Regions from separate parts of the Homo sapiens genome. Here region 2 is linked to region 1. A link means that fine-mapping ties the variant in region 1 to the expression of a gene that starts in the linked region. Tissue or cell type: whole blood. Region 1 holds a variant in brackets; the other region holds the start of a gene. All regions are shown on one strand. Distances are between the middles of the regions. Region 1 overlaps ALDH1A2 (aldehyde dehydrogenase 1 family member A2). Region 2 holds the start of AQP9 (aquaporin 9).

Evidence for each region. PIP is the estimated chance that this variant, and not a neighbour inherited with it, causes the effect.
Region 2: AQP9 starts here. The variant in region 1 is fine-mapped to the expression of AQP9 in whole blood (INTERVAL, PIP 0.92).

What each region holds. Positions count from the first base shown.
Region 1 is chr15:58,051,107-58,056,496 of GRCh38, reverse strand. All of the region lies in intron 1 of ALDH1A2 (aldehyde dehydrogenase 1 family member A2), which reads left to right. Among named protein-coding and RNA genes, the nearest start is that of ALDH1A2-AS1, 11 kb to the left of the region's middle. The variant G/A (reference allele first, on the strand shown) is at 2,236.
Region 2 is chr15:58,136,294-58,141,683 of GRCh38, reverse strand. AQP9 (aquaporin 9) reads right to left here and starts at 3,303. Exons shown (of 6, transcript NM_020980.5): 1 at 3,008-3,303. The coding sequence starts at 3,118.

The DNA of each region.
Region 1 (5,390 bases):
TTTGTAGTCTTCAGAAAGTTTATTTTTGCTTTTTGCATTTCTGTCTTTACCTCCTAGAATTGGTCATTGCTTATGCATGGGGACAATAATAAAGACAAATGATGTAGCATTGGAAAGTCAAACAATATTGATGTTTAAATAATTTTTAAAAATTGTATTCCTTGAAGTCTTGGAATCAGATTAGGAAGTCTAGAATGTGTGGTCTTCTCTATAATGGGAAAATAGGAGAAACTACTTTGATTGATGGTTTTAATACACACTAGTTTCCCTAAACTAAGAACAGTGCTGTGTTCCACAAACTTACCTCTAGGCGGCCACTGTATAAAACTCTAGGGTAACATGATTATTATAACTTATTCATGTCAAGACTTAATTTCCCTACCTTTCTTACATTATCTGGAACAGAATAAGTACTTAAATATTAGCTGTGGTTGTACTCTTGCTCATGTGCGCTCGCGCTGTGTCTCTCACACACATACAACACTCATTTTTGAAGGGTCAAGATAAATTGATGAATTATTCACTCTGTGCTGCTGATAGATTTGGAGAAAACATGGATAGGTAGCAAATAATTTAAAAAGAATTTCTAAAAGACCTTTTTTTTGAATAACTCTACATTATTCAAGAATAATATACTTCATCCTGTTAGTGAAGAGAATTTAAATTATTCCTAAGCACCAGGTCTGAAAATAACATTACTTCTTATTTTGTTAACATTTTAACTTAAGTTCTAAACCCAAAGCTGGTGTATATATTTACCTTTGTGTTTGAATTTCATCAGTGATTTGGTTCATACATGTGTATCTCTAATTTTAAAGAAAATATTGTGGAAGTGTGAAATTCTCCAACCTTAAAACTAAAACTACCCCTTCTGTGTATATACTTACATATAACACCTGACAATTTTGGCTACACACTTATTTTTTGATAATGAATGTATATTCTCTGAGCATTCATATTACTTATTTGCACTTCTCAGTGGTACAATTTTTGCATGGTATTATATTTTTCTGTGTAACTCCCTACTTCTAAACTGTACTAGATTATAAACTCTTATTTATCATGGTGTTTCTGAAGTACCTAGCTCAATGTCTAACAATGTAGAAACTTCAAGAATGTTTTCTTAATGAATACTTGTTATATTTTAATAGCTACGGCTTTTATTATTAATACTACAATATTCAGAGTACTTTTCACATATGATTACATTAAATTCTTGGGGCAACACTACGATGTGGATATTGTATTAATATCTTCATTTTATAAGTGAGAAAATCAAGCATATTAAAGTTAGTTTTTTCAGGCTCAACAGCAATAGTGGGTGGCAATTCCAGGACTCAATACTCCTCCTTCCCTACTCGTAACAATAAGGACAAACATAATAACCACTACAAAGACAATACAATTTGGACTATTAACCTAAAGCCTTGCTGAATGTTTCATAGGAAACCCCAAGCCCAGTTCCTCAACTACAAATCCCATATTTCATTCAGATCCTAAGTCTAATTCCACTCAGTATTGTCCGCAGCTATCATAAGCAACAATTCCAACCAGACAAAAATGGGAGTATGAATTTAAAAAAAGGAGAGAATTGATACAATTTGACACTTTAGGTATACATCACCTGGGAATATGTGATTTTTTAGGTTATGATAAAGAACGATGTTTTTCAATCCTCATTGGTTGTGTAGTCACACACTGCCCTTAATAACACCTGTTTATTTGATCTGTTTTGTTTGCATTCAAAAAGTGTTTTCTTTTTTTATGGCTGTTAAGATTGACTTGGGAGGGAGGATGTGTGAGGCTATTGAGGATAATATATTTTACATTCTTTCTAATGCTTTCTGTGCCCCAGTGGGCCATCATTTTGTGTAACTGGGCTATAATTTCTGTGAGAGAGATGCTTGCCAGAAAGAGTTGGGTGGGTATGTTCCATCTTGTCTCTTATGAGCAATCATCTTACTAAGGCTTAATTACTATCAGATCCCTCTGTTACCTGTAATCTCAGTGGGGAGGCAGAATAGAGGAATTCATGCAGTACTCAAACTTTGAGTTTCAGCAACACAAAGGGGTGGCATTTGGGGTGCACAATTAATGTTTCATTATAAATGATTGAAAAATCCTCTCTAAAGAAACTGCTGAAAGGTTGTGTCCTTTAAGCCAGATCTTGCAATCTCCAGATTTCTCTGACTTCACTTTTAGAGAGAACAGATCTTTTTTACTTACCAAACTTAT[G/A]CCTTTTCTTTCCTTTTTTATTCCTCCCCTTTTGTGCTTCTCTTCTGCTTCCCTTGGTGTTTCTCTTAGGACAGGCACTTGATAACTCTTATTTCTCGTTTAGACTCATTTACCTGTTTGCATGAAATGGTTAGTTATGCCTGGGAACCTTTGTAGTTGGCTCTCCCAGCTGTTGGCCTAAATGGTCCTTTGGGAGACCAGAAGCAATGAACCTGGAATAACCACATTTGACTTCTGGGAGCCCTCCTGAGAATTTAGTAATTACTTAATGGATTGAATTGGCGACATATACTATTCCAGATAACAGCCTGGGTTGCATTAAATTAACCTTCACAAATGGGTATTTATTGGTGTACTCTTAAAAGACTACACGTGTTGGCTGTAATTGCTCTTCCATGTTTCTCCATGCTGATAGGTATTTGTACTGAGTGAAAAATTTCTGAGATTAAAGCCTGGGTGGTAGTTGTAGCTATTTAGTGATGTGTGTCATTGTGTTCAGCACATTGAGCATAAATCCTGTCTTGTAAACAGCAGGGAGACTAATGAGGTTTGCCCACATTCTGGTATCATTACCAGGAATTCCAACAGAGAAAAAGAGAGGGCGTAGAAAAGAAGTACACAAAACAGTGATTTTTGGAACTCCTGATGATCTGATTTAAGGAGAAAGATGATTGCTCAGCATTTAGTATAGGCATGTATGCATAAATAGGGGTACATAAAGTACACTTAGCCAAAAAACAAACCAAACATTTTGCTTTCACTGAATGCTTGCAAAGTCACTAACTTATTGCTACGGAGATGAGGGCCTTATTTGTGAGTGTCTGTAATTGTGAGTGGTGTAAAGGGGACAACTGTTGAAATAATGCAGCTGTTAAAATGATAGCATGCTTTTTGCTTTTTTGGAACACTTTATAATTTCAGTGAACTAAAATTCCACACCAATTTTAGTTTTACAATTTTTGGAGTATTTCTGCTGTCATTTTCAGTGATAGGCACACATGACTTCAGAACACAAAAATCTCTTAGAAGAAGCATTTTAAATGTGGCATTTTAGGTTTATTTCGAACTTTATTATTACTGTTAAGTACTGTGTGTTTTATAATGTCACTCCAAGGGATCCAATTACTGTTTAATTTGTAGACTCATTTTTTTCTTGGACTTAAATTTTTATGAGAGCCGGTATCATGGCTGCCTTGACACAGAGTGTGGTCCATACATCTTCGTGTTTGATGAATGAATAAATGAATACATCCTAGACAATAAATTGTCTGATTTCATTTGCAGAGTCATTAATAGTTAAAATGCCAGGACTAGAAAGTGAATTCCAAGGTAAAGTGTTTTGAAACAAATTTCTTTCATGTGCTTCCTTTAAAGAAGGTATACACACATCCACTTTGGAAAACTCTTCTGCTTCATTGCCACGCATTTACCCCTTCCTCTGAAATAGAAACCTTTCAGTGTACCTTGCAGAGCAGTGAACAAGGCACTGGACAGGGCATTAGAAGACCCGTGTTCTGACCCCAGCTCTGTCACTTATGTATGTTCATTTAACAGTTTCTTGGATATGCAGGCATTGAATAAATACTTATTGAATTAGCGAATGAACAAAATAACTTGATCATTTATTATCTATTCTATAATGGGACCTGGAAATATGAAAATGCTTTGTGATACTGGGTACGCCACTTAAATTTCCTGGTAACAGGAAGCAGAGGTTGCACTGAGCCGAGATTGCGCCACTGCACTGCAGCCTGGGCGACAGAGCAAGACTCCCTCTCAAAAAATAAAAAAAATAAAAAATAAATCCTGGTAACAGCTTTGTTACTTACAAAATGAGAGACCAGAATGAGATGCTTATTAATTAATCCACCTACTTTTTAAAAGTGTTGGATTAGAAAAGCTATAAGATTTCTTTACCCCACCCTGACTAATTAGAACTCTACTTTCCTGGGCCCAGAACTTGGGATTATGGGCATCTGAAAGACAATACTGAACTGCTTGCATATTTAGTTGTGGTCTTTTTAGGGCCGAAAATTTGCACTCAAACAGTTTTGTTGAAAATACTGTCTCAACAATGTACTCATGGTTACCAAAGAGTAGTCCACAGAAATCCCTGTTAATGATTCTCGTTATATAAATGAGTGGCTAGCAGTGTCATAAAGATCCAGCGGAAATCAAAATGTTTCATATTTGCTAAGGACTTACCATATTAGAAATTAGAGCAGTGACTCCCAAGAGACTTCCTCCTTTGAGTCTTGGTGAAAATTGATTTTAATACTTTGTAATAGTAGTAGGCAGAAAATATTTGTTGTCATTTCTCCTCCAGACCATTTGAGCAGCTTTCCTGCCAAGCTAAGCTCATGAAAACCATGGAGGGTGAGGAAGCGTGGTGGCAAGGGAACTTGTCAGAAGCTTACAGCTTTTCACTTGAGTCTAATAGAGACTTAGCACTTTGCAGGTCAGTGCCACTGCTATTTGTCTCTGACCTAAGAGATCTGGAGTTCTTCACATCAAAACCACATCTTGCTGAGCAGAGATCAAACGTAGGAAGGTAAGAATTCTGCCAGTGATTTATCATGCCAGGGAGAGTGATCAGGCCATATGGGGCCACTGCAAATGAAGTTGACATTCTGGCAGTTTCTCATATAGGCCTCTCATGTAGTTATGGCTAGTTTTTCTTGTAGAGGAATTCCGGGTCAAGTGGCAGCTTTCAGTGGTATTTCTTAGCAGAACTGACCTCCAACATGAGGTTTATTTCAAAATGTAGTCCTAGCAAGAGTTTTCTAATGTTGTGTTTAAATGGCAAATAGGGATCTTGACCAAATTTGAGCTTTTCATTTGTCTCCTTTCCTCTTTTTTTCTTTTCTGGGAAGTTGCCTATCTAAAAAAATAAATAAATAAAAAGAGAAAATTAAGTTTAAGATGTACAAAAATTTCTCAAAATGTTAGATGTGATTTTAAAATGAACTCTATAAATTATGCACAATTAGGCTTATTAGTTTATCATCACAGTTTAAGTCAGGGTCCTTTAGGAATGACTTACTGCAAATAATATTATAATCCAGTTCCTGGGGTAAGAGGAAGCATCACATTTAAGGAATAATTTAATTCTTTAAATACGATTATTTGCTAAGATCTGAGTCAAGTGCAAACCT
Region 2 (5,390 bases), 85 kb before region 1:
GGAAGGTAGGAGCAGGAAGAAGGGAACACTGCAGTGTCTGAAATTTCTCACATACAATCAACCATCCCTGTCCTTCCTTCCTCCTTCCTGTACTGCCCACTCCCCTATTTCCTCCATAGTCTGTGTTCCAGGATAGTTTCTTTCTATTTCCTTCAGGGCACTGAAGGTAAAGATCAAGGGTACTACTTTTAGCAGAAGTACTTGCATTTTTTTCCATTCTAAGAGATGCCAAAAGTTAGACCTCTAATGCGGAAGCTTGACAGGGTGAGAAAAGAATTCAGCATCTGTCCGACTACACAGTATGTTATCTACTCAAAAGTCCAGCCCTGGAAAGCTGTCCTTCCACCTCAGGAGGAAATACAGCTGCTTGCTGGGTTGTTCACTTCAGCATCTTCAATAAGATGAGCTCTGTATCAAAGAATCCTGAAAAGTTTGAAGAGAGAGGAGAATATATAGAGTAGTAGGAGTGAGCATAGTCCCTGTGAGAAATGACTAGACATGACTAGAGATTCTCTGAAGTTCAGCCCAAGGAAGAGATCAGCCTTTTGCATTGCAAACTTTCCCCCCACACTAGTAAAGGTGAAAGGCCTACGTATCCCAATGACTAAAAGGCCAAATTAGAGCTAGCTTTTTGGCTTATGACTTAATTGTTGTTGGTTTTAGTTGTAGTTTATAAAGAATTTTTCATGGACCTTCTTTTCTCTTAATGCTACCAGTAGGCCTTATCAGTCCTTTATACCAACTGTTCCCAACCTTTTAGCACCAGGGACCACCTGTACCAGTCCGTGGCCCATGTGTTGGGGACCCGTAATTTATACCATGGTGTTAGATTAGTTTGAGATGCTCCCCATAAGAGCAGTTTTTGAAAGGAGGGAAAAAAAATAGAACCAGACTCCCAAGGTTGGCGGAAAAAAAACAATCTCACATATTTGAAAGACTGAGTCCTTTATATCCTCTGCCATCTTTTCGATGTTCCCCTTCCCTTTGCCTTATCAATGTACAAAGCTTTTTACTAGAAAATACAAGGCAAAATGCACATTCTCTAATAAAGCAGAAAATTACTTTGGATAAACTTTCAGCAAAACCATGTAGATTTCTTGGTTTAAAAAAATTGTGTTTGTGCAGGAACTTTTTGTTTATACATCCCCACAAGCTCCAACAAAACTGAAGATGATAATCAAGGTTGCAGATTTTATTAGGGTTCACTTTAGAAAATAAATGTATAGTATAAATGGAAATTAAATATTTCAGGAAATGACTGGCTTTATCCAGAACATACAAGTTTTAATTTTTCAACAGACAATATCAAGATGTTCTTTATTTAGCCCCTACCTTGCATAGTGGGGAAGACACAAGGCCAGTTGAACAGTGAACTGCTGAAAGCAAATTTCACTTTCAACACAGAAAGCACGGGATTATGAAACAGGTTCTTCTTAAGAAATACAGAGGGTTTTAAACTTTTTGGTTGCAAAAAAAAAAAAAAAAAGATGTGTAGTTCATTTCCTCCTCTGTTTTCTGCAGAGCACTAAGAATTGTAACTGAATTTGCTTCACTTTTCTGACTCACTCGTCACTGTGAGGCTGTAATCACTCTGTATTGACAACTGCTTCTTTGGGGCCAGATTGTCAAGTAACATGACAGAGGGGTCTCAGTCTCACTAAGAAAGATTTTCCAGTAAGCAGTGACCGGGAATCATAAGAATCACTGACTTTCATCTTCTCTCTTTTATTTCTTTTATTTTAGTTAGAAATAACTACTTACATAATGTCTTACTACATAATGTCTTGCTACATTATGACAGTGAGTGTGGTCAGAGCAGCCAGGAATGAATGCCAAGGGAAGATGAGGAGTGCAAGAAATTGTCCGTAACTCCCTGAAAATACTGTAACGAATCTGGTCTAATGTGTTTCTCAGAGACCAGAAAACTTATGACTCTCTCTTCACATTCCACTAGTTCAATTTTTTGAGTTCACATTTGTTTCTCATTCTTGGCTTAGCTGATGCATTCCAAGCTTATTCTTCTAAATTATTATGTATTTGCCCCAAGCAAAGAACTTTTAATGCACAGAGTTTATGGGCTATTCTCTATAACTTTAAGGAAAATGAAATTATTTATACCTGGAGTAGGAAATCCTTAAGCAGGATAAAAAAAACCAGTTGAAATCAATAGTTGCCACATGATAATACATTTCTATTCACAAATGGCCTGGTTCCAGGTAAAACTTCAGGATACAGAGAATGCTAGAACGTGCAGCAAAATGAAAGCCCAGACCACTTAAGTAAACTTTCCAGTCTCTTGTTAATAGCTGAGTAAATCTCTGGGCAATCCTCAAGAGGTTCTTAGAAGTCGTCCCTCGTTTATATCTAGAAGGTTCTTGTAATTGTCTTGTAAATCTCCAAAGATATTTAGAGATTACTTTGCTTTAAATAGAGACCAAAAATGACACAAAACTAAAGCTGGACTATTGCCTGGTACACTATTTCTACCTAGTGCAATTTTTAATTTCTTAAAAATCAAGTGATCTGACAGCACAATACTTGTCAAGTACTTGTCATACTGAGATGTTTCTTGCCATCCATATGTATATTTTTGCCAACTATATTTATTGACTATTGATGCTTATTCCAGGTGGCTGAGTCACCCCAATGCTTGGAGGAAGCAAGCAGGGTACAAATCAATTGATCAATGAAAACACTAACGACTGACTTTTAAATCACAAAGCCATTTTAGAGTATAAGTAAATACCTGAAATAAAGAAGGCACTTCACTCACTCCTTCTCTTCCATTCCCATCAACTTTTGTGGGTAAATGCAATAGGTAATTGAAAACTTAATATCACAACCCCTAAATAGTCAAACAGCCTCTAGTAACTTGTTTCTTCCTGGAAAAGATGAATCTGATCCCAATTAACTTAAATAAAACAAACCAAACAAAACTCTCCACTACCAGCCTGGCAGCTAGGGAGGCATTATTGGGTCTGAATGTAGGAAATCAGGAAATACTTACAATCAAGATGAACGTGCCCAAGAACTCAGAGAGGGTTTCTTTCGCTAAGCTGCTCTTCAAGACCAGTCTCTGCTTGAAGCTTTTTCCCTTTTCTGCTCCCTCAGGCTGCATCTTGGGGCTTCTCTGAGGACTCCTGTTTCTACCAATACCTACCTGTTGTGGTCCTCACTTTCACAGCCAGATGAAAATGGACGTTTTGACAATGGCTCACAGATTCCTGGAGATGTCTGGTAAGAGTCTCTGACTGTACAAATGCCGTTCCAATTAGAGGCTGTGGCTTAATCGTCTTCTGGTGGAACTGTCATTCCCTGTTCGCTGCTATTTGTTTGAATCTGCGACTTAGAACCCGAAATCCCCAAAACAATCCCTTTTGTGCCTGACAGATTAATCATTACCTTTATTCTCAAGGTACTTTTTTCTCTGTTGGTTTTTTTCAAGAGATGAGAAAAGAGATGTGCCAGTTGTGTTGCCAAATCACAGTGACGGGCCCTGGTCCAGAAAAGATTTTCATGTTACACAATTGCAGGCTTCTGATTTTTTTTTCTTCTCATTCAGAAGTGGGTGGTTGGGGTGTAGTTTGGAACTGTCAAATCAGGTGTAGATATATCCAATGTTAACATTCTTTTCTGAAAAAGGTTTTTATGCAAAATGAAGAATTTGAAGAAAATATAGATTTATCATCCTAGAAGATTAATCACTCTTGTTTTCTTCTGGTATCATTTCAGTGGCTTCATGATACCACTCTGAGGTTAGTAAGAACCACATAGGCCATCCTAGAGATGGAGAAATTAACATACAGAGAAACCATTGCAAGCTTCACACTGCAAGTCTGTAGGACAGATGGAGTCACCTCTTCGGTTATGAAACTGGGCTTCACTTGCTGAAGATACTTTAGGATCCAAGAATCAGAAAGATGGAGGAGTCACCTTTTTGGTGACTTCTGAAGTTTCTTCTGAAGAAACATTCCAGTTTGGGTTTCTTCTGAAGAAGCATTCCAGTTTGAAAATAGTCACTCTTCTTCATTCACCATGAAATATTTAGACATAATACATAGGAAATAAACAATAGCAGCTTGAAATTCTTTACTGCATGGAGATGACTGAGCCGGAAAGAGATCAATTAGCGTGTATGTCATTCTAATCAAACGAGAAAGGGAGCCAGTACACCTAACCGAGGCTCCTAGGTTATACCCTTTCAATTTGATAAATTGACATCCTTGCTGGCAAGAAACTGTGTTTGGGAGTAGCTCCTTGTCCTGCCAAATATTCAAGCCTTGTTTTTCAAAACTGGCTTATCTGAAGAAATAGAATATAGCATTAGTTTCTAAATAGCAAGGCAGGCCTAGTTTCTGATTACCAATGTGGACTCATGGAATTAGTATCCATGCTGTGTGGTTCCTTCCAGTCCTCCCACAGGGAAGCCAGCTCTGCATCAGGCCCTCCCCTAGCTTTGCAAAAAGGGAGGGAGGAGAGGACATGGAGAAAGCAGCTGGTGAGAGGCCAAAGGCAGAAGGAGACTTCTCATCTGTAGGTGACATTTAGAATTTAGACTTTAAAAAGTTATAACCTGCCTGAGGCCACACTACTGCAGAACCAGGACAAAACCTCAGCACTTTGGCTTTAATTCCTGATGAAGTTATCATAAATACCATTGTCTAGAAGAGTTACCTATGACCACACCATTACCAAGTCCCAGTGGATGGACCAGAGAAACAGGACTTTCTTACTGTGACTACAGCTAATAACATGCAAGAGCGTTCTCTGGTCTTCCCATTCACTCATCTAACAACTATTTACTGCACACTCATTATGTGCCAAGCACTGCACTTAACAAGAGCACATAGGGTTCTTGTCCTTCACAGAGCCTAGAGTCTAGTGAAGCAGACAGATGTAAGTGAAATAATCCCACACACATAAATACAAAATCACAACTGAGATGTATGCTGCAAAGATGGGGGCCATATTTCCATAAGCAAATATAGCAAAAGGATTTGACTTTGTTGGAGAGATCTCTGATGGCTTCTCCAAGGAAGTCATGTGTGGACTGAGATCAGAAAGAAGCATGGGATTAACTACATGAAGTGGGGAAGAAAGTGCATGTACAAAGTCCTTGGTGGCTTTGGGGGTAAGGGGTAGGGGACAGCATGATGCCTCTCAAAGAATGAGAGAAATTTACTGTGGTTGGCCCCAGAGAGAGTGAAGGAGTACAGCATGCAAAATGAGCCCTGAGGTGTGGGCAAGGGTCAGACCTTACTAGGCCTTGTAAGTGGTAGTTAGGGCTAAAAGTGTAAGTCATTAAGGTGGTTTAAGCAGAAATACGACATGATCAGATTAGAGTTTTGAAAAGATCCTCCGAGCTGTGAGGTGGAGAGGGGATTGGAGGG